2 separate regions of the Homo sapiens genome follow, and region 1 is linked to region 2. Evidence: fine-mapped expression QTL. A gene starts in region 2. The other region holds a variant in brackets. All regions are shown on one strand. Distances are from middle to middle. Region 1 has its middle 50 kb from the start of LINC02348. Region 2 holds the start of GCAWKR (gastric cancer associated WDR5 and KAT2A binding lncRNA).

Region 1 (5,379 bases), 710 kb after region 2:
GGCTGCCTCATGGAGAAGCTGCATGGATGTGCAGGGCACAGGCGCACAAAGTTCTGGGGCCTGGGAGAAAAGAGGAAGGAATCATTACCACATGTTCAGGCTGCAGAGGCTCCGTAGCAGAGGAATAGGGAGAAGCAACCAGTAACGGAGGTGGGAGCCGGAAAGGTACCAGGTGTAAGCTGGGGGACAAGGGAGCAGGCGGACAACAAAGGCAATATCTTGGGGAGGCAAGAGGCAGAGGAGGTTTGAATTTTGCCCCCGCCTGTGATGGGCTGCCGGGTGGACTCCGCCGTCCTGGAGCTCCATGCAGGGGCCAGCGCTCATGTCCTGAGAGTGCGGGCGGCTCACAGCACAGAGGACTTGCACTGTGCGATCGCACCTCAGCGGTGGCCGTGCAAGAATGGCCTCATCTCTTAGGTTAGCTCCTGAGAGGGCCTCACTTCCTCCACCCACGGAAGCCAGAGCTCAGCTAAATCAGCGAGGTTCCTTACCCCTGTGCTGCCGTCCACCCAGAGGGCCCCGTTTTGGACATGTATCATCTGGGTTTGAATGCAGCCCAGAACCCAGTCCCAACTCAGCCTCACCTTCATAGGCAATCAGGTTGTCTCTGGGAAGCCCAGGCCTCCCAGAACTTCCCTGAGCACTGGCCGCTGGGTGCTGCACCCCAACTCTTCCCAGTCTTGGCCCCAGAAGTCCCTGATACCGGCAAGCCACACACAGAGCCCTCCAGACCAGGGCTTGTCTTGGGGTAAGATTGTGTACACCACAGGGAACCCGCCAATCCATAACACATAACAGGCCCCTGTCCTGTTCACAAAGATGTGTAACTTGGTAAAACACCATGCAGAAGTAAAAATGCACTATTGCGGTGATGTGGCCATGAGTCCAGTAGGGAAATCATTTTCCACGCTCTTCCTCTGTGGACACCATCTCCTCGAATGTGACTGGGGATTGGAAGCTACAGCTTCTAGAGTCCACAGGTCTTTCTTTTTTGCTGGCAAATTCGGACAACATCTACTCTGCTACAGGCTTCAGCCCATCTCCTATTTGCCAGAATTCACCTCAAGAAATCAAGAACAAAGCGTCATCTCTCACTTCAAAACGTTCTTGGAGGCACGTGGTTTCCGGGCCAATGGCCCACGGAGCAACAAGCCCGAGTCTGACTGTGACGGTATCACCGTGGTGCAGACCTCACCCATGAGTCTCCATCTGCGAGAAAGACACAGGGCGGCGGTGGGAAACACAAAGAGGACAGGAAAGACCTGCGCCGGAAAGGGATGGAAGAGCAGGCTCCGAGCCTGATGCACAGGACAACGGCTGCATTTCAACAAGGAAGGACACCTCCTGCTCCATTCTCCACTCCTCCTCCTGCAGGGGCAGGGATCCCACTTCCACCAGCGCCCAGGTCCTCCTCGCCACCCTGGTGTGATGCCAGCACCCTCTATGGGGGGTCCTCCTATGGTGCCAGTGACAGGCCCACCTCCTCCTGAGGGTGATGCCATGGGACCTGCTCCTGGAATGAGGCCACCCATGGGATGTCACATGCCAGTGTTACCCAGGCCCCCAGGATGAGCCCGCCCACCCATCGCATGGTGGAGCCCACGCAGCCCAGAATAACTAAGCCAGACAGATTAGAATAGTGGAGAGACCTCGTCATATCAGCTTTTTGCTATTTGTTCTTCTCCAGGAGACCATGGTGCTGTGACGCTGGGTGTTTCCTTAGCAGCATAAGGAAGACCTGCTCCCCCTTCCTACCAGAGAATAGTTTTGGAGGGGAGAAGTGAGACCAAAAAAGTACAGTTTTCATCTGTATTGTGAAATGTGAACATAAAATTGCCAACTCTTTCAGTTTTTTAAAAAAAAAAAGTCTTGGAAAAGCAAATAAAAACCACAATGAGATACCACTTCACATCCACCAGGATGGCTATAATTTTAAAAACGAAAAGTAAGTGTTGACAAGGTTGTGGAGAAATTGGAACCCTCGTACATCGCTGGCAGAAATGTGAAATGGCTCAGCCACTGTGGAAAATAGTATGGCGGTTCCTCAAAAAGTTAAATATAGAGTTCCCATATGTCACAGCAATTCCACTGCTAGGAATGTACTCCAAAGAATTGAAAACAGATACTCACACATGTACCCCATGCTCATAGCAGCACTAATTCCAACAGCCAACATGTGGAGTCAACCCAAATGTCTATCATGAATGGTTAAGCAAATGTGATTTATCCATACAGTGGAATATTACTCAGCCTTAAAAAGGAGTGAAGCACTTGTACATGCTCCAGTATGCAGGGACTGTGGAAACATGATGCCAAGTGAGAGAAGCCAGGCATAAATGGTTACATACTGCAGTATTCCACTTATAGGACATGCTCAAAATAGGTAAATCCATAGAGACAACAACTTAGTCTTTGCCCAGGATGGAGGGAAAGGGGAATGGGAAGCCACAGCTTACCAGGTACAGAGTTTCCTTTTGGGTGATGAAAATCTGGGCTTAGATAGAGGCGACGGCTGCACCATATCGTGCAGTTACCAAATGCTACTAATTGTTCACATTAAAATGGTTAATTTTA[C/T]GTTCTGTGAATTTCAAGCTTTCAAGTACTGGGGTTGAATCTGGAGACGCAAGGTCACTTGGAATCTCTAAGTGTTATTTTCTTAGCCTTTCCTCTTTTTTTTTTTTTTTTTCTTGAGACGGAATTTCGCTCTTGTTGCCAAGGCTGGAGTGCAATGGCACGATCTCGGCTCACTGCAACCTCCGCCTCCCGGGCTCAAGAGATTCTCCTGCCTCAGCCTCCTGAGTAGCTGGGATTACAGGTGCACACCACCACGCCCAGCTAATTTTTGTATTTTTAGCAGAGATAGGGTTTCACCGCGTTGGCCAGGCTGATCTCAAACTCCTGACCTCAGGTGATCCACCCGCCTCGGCCTCCCAAAGTGCTGGGATTACAGACGTGAGCCACCGCGCCCAGCCAGCCTTTCCTTTTGAGATATAAACTGGTTGCGGGATTAGAGTCAATCATTGCTGTTTTTCCAATGGGTTGTTGTATATAGATAATCTGGGATATTTTATTAAAAACTCAGGGTTATAAAACTTGCATAGAAAGATTCTATAATTATTAGGCCTGGAACAAAAAAAGAGGCTTGGTGTCCCAGTGGAATGCTGAGTGGCCAAGGGGAGCACTACCAGTGGCTACAAAAAGGCCATCTGGAGGCCAGGATCAGTTCTGTCTGACCGTAGGTGCTGAGGGTATGGGACGGCTGGAAAGGAGGTTTCTCTAGAGGACACCAGTGTCCAGACAAGGTTCTGGAGGATCTGAAGGAGCACGCTGGTGCCTTTGCTCCTGTAGGATGCTGTGGAGAAGGATCCCTGTATCTTATGTATAGGTTCCATGATCTCTAGAAGCACCATTGCAAGCCCATTTTACAAATAGGGAAGACAGGAGTGAGGGGCTTGCCCAGGGCCACTTGGCTGGATACTCACCCAGGCCAAGCTTGCCCAGCCCTGACAATTCACTGTCACCACCCTTTACTCCTGATGACCACAGCCCAGAAGGACAGGGATTGTGTAACATTCTAAGAAAATCATGCTGCCATGCAGGAAGGAGACAGACCTAGACTCAGCCAATAGCAGCTGAGGGGTAAAGTTGCTTCAAAAGAATTCTTGGCTTCTTGGTATTATTTGGTTTGCCCAGAGACTCCACACCCCACTTTTTTTTTTTTTTTTTTTTTTTTTTTTGAGACAGAGTTTCACTCTGTCACCAGGCTGGAGTGCTGTGGTGTGATCTCAGTTCACTGCAACCTCCAACTCCCTGGTTCAAGCGATTCTCCTGCCTCGACCTCCCAAAGTGCTGGGATTACAGGCATGAGCCACCACGCCCGGTCTCCACACCTCACTTCTACCCTCTGCTACTCTCCTGTTTGGAACGTTGGTTTCTTCTGTTTCCAATGGTTATCATACGGATGGCTATTTGATAAGTCCCAGTTCCAACCCATCACTCTCCCAAGGAGGTTGGAACTGGGACTTAGACCCCTGTGGGACCTGGATTCTAACATGTAAAACTCTAGTGCTCCCGGAAGCTGTGTTACTCCAAGGCAGCAGCCAGGCAGAGAGAGGCAGAGGAAACAAGGAGGTAGAGATGACGTCCTCACCTCCCCACAGTGCCCAGTGCCCAGCTCTGCCCCTAAGGCCCAGCCCCACACTGCCCACAGATTCTGAGGGGTCCTCCAGGATGCTGCTATGTCATGCCCCACAGACTGGTACCCTCACAACCTACCCAGTGTCTTCCCGGGAATCTAGAGGATGGGAAGCCTCAGTCTGCATTTCCCAGACTCCCTTGCAGAGAAGGTTTCACATGTGACCTGGGTCCCACCAGGCAGAGACACCTGCAGACTTGGGAGTTGGAAATGAGCACCCCAGGGTGGTGGCAACACTCAGGGAGATCAGACTTTCAGCAAGTAGAATGGCCCAGGTGCTTGGCTGTTCTGAGTAGCTGGGGTAGAGGGTCTATCATCCCAAACCTAAGCTATGGGCAGCAGCAGTGGCAGTGGAGTTTTCAGAAGAGTCCTGTGATCTAGGCATGTATTTCTCCTGGCTCTAAGGTCTAAGCTTGGGTCTTTGACCTGCCCAGAAATTAACAAACCACATGACAGGCTGTAATAAATTCCTTTCTCTTAAATAAACTGGAGTGGATTCTGTAGTCTGCGCCTAAGAATCCTAATTTATACACCTGCCAATAATAAATTCATCTTGTTGATAATTCGACTTGGGTGTCTGTCACTTGCAAGCAATGTAGTTGTAATACAATAGCCAAGTAATCATCCAAACTGGATAAAAAAACTTTAAAATGGATAAAAAATGTCTTTATCCGAATAACAGACGTCTCCATTTGCAGGCAGCTATGACTGTACCCTCTACATTGAGACATCAAGACATAATAAATTTCATTTTATAGCTTGGAAATGCATGAATATAACAAGTTAACTGACTTGTGGGGAACACTGAATAGCTGGAATTTCATCTAATAAGAGATTTAAAATTAAAATATTTTAAATAAAAATGTTCACCCTTATTGGGTCACTGGTTCCAATATTCTCACTTCAGTCCTGAAGACACAGAGGCCTGGGGTGTTGCTCAAATGCACACAGAGTCCATAACAGGATTAGAACTATTAGAAGCCCTACGCTAAGCTTAATATCTAGGCAATGAAATACTCCGTACAACAAATTCCTGTGACACGAGTTTACCTGTGTAACAAACCTTCACCCGTACCGCCGAACCTAAAATGAAAGTTACAGAAAATAAAGTAAGAAATGAAAAAAAGTAAAGAACGAGAAGCCCTATCACTGAACCCTACACTGGTCTCTCCACCACAGCACAG
Region 2 (5,379 bases):
ATATGTTTCAGACATGCAGGCATTCGGGGTTTTAAACTTATTTTAAAACTGAAGAGAGAGCTGGTCCCTGGGGGCGAGCAGGACAGGGACAGGTCAAGTCACTGCTGGTCCTGCTTCATGAGGGGACACCGATAGGAAGCTTCATAGCAACCCATGTTTCATACCGTCTGGTGCACATATCAATATGTTTTCCAAAAGATAATAAAGGGGGAAAAATAAACATCTTCAATCCCTCTCAGAGAAAGGCTATTCTTCTTAAGAGTCCACACTCACCAGGCCCAGGATCTCCAATCCCACCTCTGCCCTACACAGGTGAATGCTATCTTCTCATTGCACAGATGAGGAAACTGAAGCTCGTGTCAAATAGCCACACAGCTGAGGAAGGTCCGTGCTGGGTTGGCGCTCAGCTCCAGCTGACCCAAAGCTGCCCTATGTGCCACTTTGACGTGTTCACTTCCAGTGAATCATGTATTGGAAAAACAGGTTGACTTGTTTATAGTCAGTGACACAGTCTGACTTACTTCGCTTGTTTTTGTTTTTATGTACCTTGTTGCTGGGTATCTTAAAAAAGAATAACTCTTCTCATGCATGCCTTAAACAGCACAGAATCCTGAACCAACCCTGACACAAAGCTGGTAATTTTTTAAATATTTTAAAGCAAAAAAGTGTAAAGAACAACAAATAAAAACAATTGTACCCATAATTTCACTACTCCACCCTATTTTCATATACTACCTGACATATACGTACATAATTATAATTACAATGTAGATATAATTTTGTTGTTTAACCTTTCAAAAATGTGGTTTGGTGGATAACTCCCTCATTTCTAGCATTTACATAATTACTAATTGCTGGATGTCATACTATACAGTTCACCTATTGACACACACGTGCTTTCCAGCTTTTCCGTTGTATGATCCACTGTAACGAACACTTTCACACATACTGTATCTTTCTTCAGTTATCTTGGGATTAGTTCCCAAGGGGCCATATTAGTGAAATAGTATGGAATATTTTTATACATATCACTAAGTTATTACTCTCCCAAAGTGATAGACCCGATTTGCAGGGCCACCAGTGCCAGTTTTACTGCAACCTTGCCAGCCCAAGTGGGCAAATCTTCCAAACAACACTAATTTGCCTGATGATTAACTATTCAAAATGTTATGTATTTCCTTACAGTTACTGTGGCAAACAATAAAACATCAGAAGAAATAGAAAACTGAATTCAGATGGGATTCTAGTTATAGAATTTTAGTGCTCGTAAAGACCTAAGGAGGGGGAGGCTGGCCGTGGTGGCTCACACTTGTAATCCCAGTACTTTGGGAGGCCGAGGCAGGCAGATCACCTGAGGTCGGGAGTTCGAGACCAGCCTGACCAACATGGAGAAACCCTGTCTCTACTAAAAATACAAAATTAGCCAGGCATGGTGACCCATGCCTGTAATTCCAGCTACTCAGGAGGCAGAGGCAGGAGAATGGCTTGAACCCAGGAGGTGGAGGTTACGGTGAGCCGAGATCGAGCCACTGCACTCCAGCCTGGGCAACAAGAACGAAGCTCCATATCAAAAAAAAAAAAAGAAAAAAAAAAGACCTAAGGAGGGGGAAAAATGAAGGAATCTCTTCAAACTCAGCCTTTACGCAAACACATGAAAAATCACAGACTCATTTGTCTGCAGTCCCAAATCAGGTCATTAAGAAAACGTGGTGGGCCGGGCGCGGTGGCTCACGCCTGTACTCCCAGCACTTTGGGAGGCCGAGGCGGGCGGATCACGAGGTCAGGAGATCGAGACCATCCTGGCTAACACGGTGAAACCCCGTCTCCACTAAAAATACAAAAAATTAGCCGGGCGTGGCGGCGGGCGCCTGTAGTCCCAGCTGCTCGGGAGGCTGAGGCAGGAGAAGGGCGTGAACCCGGGAGGCGGAGCTTGCAGTGAGCCGAGATCGCACCACTGCGCTCCAGCCTGGGGGACAGAGCGAGACTCGGTCTCAAGAAAAAAAGAAAAAGAAAAAAAGAAAACGGGGTGGACAAATCGATGGGGAGGCGGCTCAACCTTTTTCCTTCTCAGGCAGAAGCCCCTGAGTAAGGCCGCCGCTGCCACCCACTGCCCCTGAAAGGACATCTGAGCACAGTGATTCCGGTGGTGCCAGGACTCCAACCAGCAAGGAGCGTTTCGCACAGAGCTGCAGAGAGTCTGTGCCTTCCAACGAGAGCCGTGTCCCGAACGCCATCCACTTAGCTCTCACTCTCCTCCTTCCTCCTTTCCCTGCCGCTTTCTGTTTTTCATCAGGGCCTTGGAACTCGCTAGTACAGACCGACTTTCAAGTTAAGTCTTTCAAGGAAAATGACTCTTGGTTTCCAGCCTGGATGTGTCATTACACCCTCATGCGTCTCAGGGAAATTAGCAACCTGATTCTTGCCCTGACTGTCATTTAAAATAAAAAGCTTTCTTATTTGCCATCTAAGACAAACTCTAGTAAACCCACAGCGGACGGGTAGGAGGAATGAAACACAGTTACTCGTATTCAGCAAGTTCCTGGGGTCATATTTACCCGCATGTGTCTCCGGGTAACTGGGGGGTGGCGCGTGTTTGCCGTTGTGATGCGGGCGTGTGTGTGTGGAGTCTGTGTGCGCTGGAGAGAGCAGTGTGTCCCCCCGAGGACCTCGGGGTCCCAGAGCTGTGCACACGCTGCCCCCCTGGACGTACAGAACCAGCAGGTGGCATCGCTCCACACAGGCCACCGAACGGCCCTGCCCCGCCCCCTGCCACGCCCTGTGCGTGCATCCGGGTCCCCGCGCAGTGGCTGCACGCAGCCCACCTCTCCCGACGATCCGGGTCCTCCCGCCCTTCGCGGTGATTCTGTCGCGAACCCTCTCACGGCAGCTATGAGACTGCTGCGCTCCCCAGACGAGGAAACCTGGTCTCCCGGAGCCAGGTAACCCACCCGCAGCCTGCGGGAGAGCCGAGGTCTGCAGCCGGGCCGTCGGGCTGCCTCTTCCCGGGGACCCGGGAGCGGGGGGCGGGGGGCATGGTGGCCTCTCGGGCTGCTCCGAACGTCCCCTCCAAACAGCGAGGGGACGCACAGCCCCACTCAGGAGGGAGCCAATGACATTGAACCTGAACCCAAGCCAGCCTTAGACTGAACTTTCAAAGTACCATTAAGCAACGCCGTGAGGAAATGGAACATTCGACAAGGTATTATGTCGCATCTCTCTCTCTTTTTTTTTTTTTTTAGGTGGAGTCTCGCTCTGTCGCCCAGGCTGGAGTGCGGTGGCGCGATCTCGGCTCACTGCAAGCTCCGCCTCCCGGGTTCACGCCATTCTCCTGCCTCAGCCTCCCGAGTAGCTGGGACTACAGGTGCCCGCCACCGCGCCCGGCTAATTTTTTGTATTTTTAGTAGAGACGGGGTTTCACCAAGTTAGCCAGGATGGTGTCGATCTCCTGACCTCGTGATCCGCCCGCCTCGGCCTCCTACAGTGCTGGGATTACAAGCGTGAGCCACTGCGCCTGGTCGCACCTCTTTTCAAAAGCCAGTGTTATCTGGGAAAGTGCAAGGGGTGGGGAGTGGGAGGTGCTGTTTTCAATGAAAAGAAATGAAAGAGACATTGTGCGTCTTCTTAGGTGATATTACAGTACCACAGACACTACAGTTAGGTGACTGAGTCCAGTATTGTCTGTTTTCTCAGGTGTGATGACTGTGTCGTGTCATGCAGAAAAATGTCCTTATTTCTAGGAATCGCATGCTGAGATCTCGGGGAGTAAAGGGCCAGGATGTCTGGAACTTAATTTAAAATGATTTGACAAGGACAGGCATACACATAGGGACAAAGCAAATATGGTAGATGTTATCAATTGCTGAATCTATGTGCTGAGTACACACGTATTTGTTGTATTGTCTTTTCACCTTTCCTATATGTTTAAAATCTTTCATAATGTCATTCGGGGGGAAAAAAAGCTGATCTGGCTATACTTATTTGGGAATGTGCCGGCTAAAAGGGAACTAACAAATAAAAACTTAACTTAGAACATAAAATTTTAGAGACTGAAGGAACCGGAGACCTTCTAGAGCTCAACTCTCATTTTAAAGATGAGGAAAGTGGGCATATTGATTTTATCTTATTTTCTTTTTCTCTTTACTTTTTAAATGTTTTTGGTTTAACTTTAAGTTCAGCGGTCCATGTGCAGGTTTGTTACACAGGTAAACTTGTGTCATGGGAGTTTGTTATACACATTAGTTCGTCACCCAGATATTAAGCCTAGTACCCAATAGTTGTTTTTCCTGATCCTCTCCCTCATCCCACCTTCACCCTCCAATAGACCCCAGTGTGTATTGTTCCCTTTTGTGCCCGTAAGTTCTCATCGGTCAGCTCCCACTTATAAGTGAGAACATGTGGTATTTGGTTTTCTGTTCCTGTGTTAGTTTGCTGAGGACAATGGCCTCCAGCTCTATATTGAATAGTTAAAAACTATTTAGGCCGGGTGCAGTGGCTCACACCTGTAATCCCAGCACTTTGGAAGGCCGAGGCAGGTGGATCACTGAGGTCAGGAGTTTGAGACCAGCCTGGCCAACATGGCGAAACCCCATCTCTAATAAAAATACGAAACAATTAGCCGGGCATGGTGGCAGATACCTGTAATCCCAGCTACTCCGGAGGCTGAGGCAGGAGAATCACTTGAACCCGGAAGACGGAGGTTGCAGTGAGCTGAGATCACACCACTGCATTCCAGCCTGGTGACCGAGCGAGACTCCGTCGCAAAAAAACAAAACAAAACAAACAAAAAAAAAACTCTTTAAAATAAGTGTTATAAACTAACAGTTTATTTATCCCAGGCACAGAAAGACAAATACTGCATGATCTCACCCACAGGTGGAATCTTAAAACATTGAACTCACAGAAACAGAGTAGAATGGAGGTTACCAGGGGCTAGAGTGTGGGGGGTTGGGGTGATGTTGGTCAGAGGGTACAAAAGTTCAGTTAGACAGGAGAAAGTTTATCTTTTAGTGATTTTCATGATTTTGACAAAGTTGAAACAACTGAAACAAAGTATCTAAATATTTTAATACTTGTAATTATTTTTTAATTGTTGAGTGATTTTAATGAGTCAAAAATATAAAACAATCATGCATAATACATATAAATAATTTGAGTGTCCAACCCATATTACAGATGAAAGTAAAGAACAGGCAGATTCTGAGACTTGGGACAGGCAGCATTTGGCACCTGCGGAGGCCCGGTTCTACACGTCTGTAGTGGCAGAAAGGCAATATATATTAAAACCTAGGAAAACAGTCAGGGCACGGTGGCTCACACCTGTAATCCCAGCACTTTGGGAGGCCAAGGCGGGCAGATCACCAAAGGTCAGAAGTTCCAGAC

Evidence for each region. PIP is the estimated chance that this variant, and not a neighbour inherited with it, causes the effect.
Region 1: its variant is fine-mapped to the expression of GCAWKR in transverse colon (GTEx, PIP above 0.99). The same link has a PIP of 0.9 or more in sigmoid colon.

What each region holds. Positions count from the first base shown.
Region 1 is chr15:101,561,346-101,566,724 of GRCh38, forward strand. It overlaps the pseudogene SNRPCP18. Among named protein-coding and RNA genes, the nearest start is that of LINC02348, 50 kb to the right of the region's middle. The variant C/T (reference allele first, on the strand shown) is at 2,575.
Region 2 is chr15:100,846,972-100,852,350 of GRCh38, forward strand. GCAWKR (gastric cancer associated WDR5 and KAT2A binding lncRNA) reads left to right here and starts at 2,781. Exons shown (of 4, transcript NR_160703.1): 1 at 2,781-2,939. RefSeq lists an enhancer at 2,613-2,907.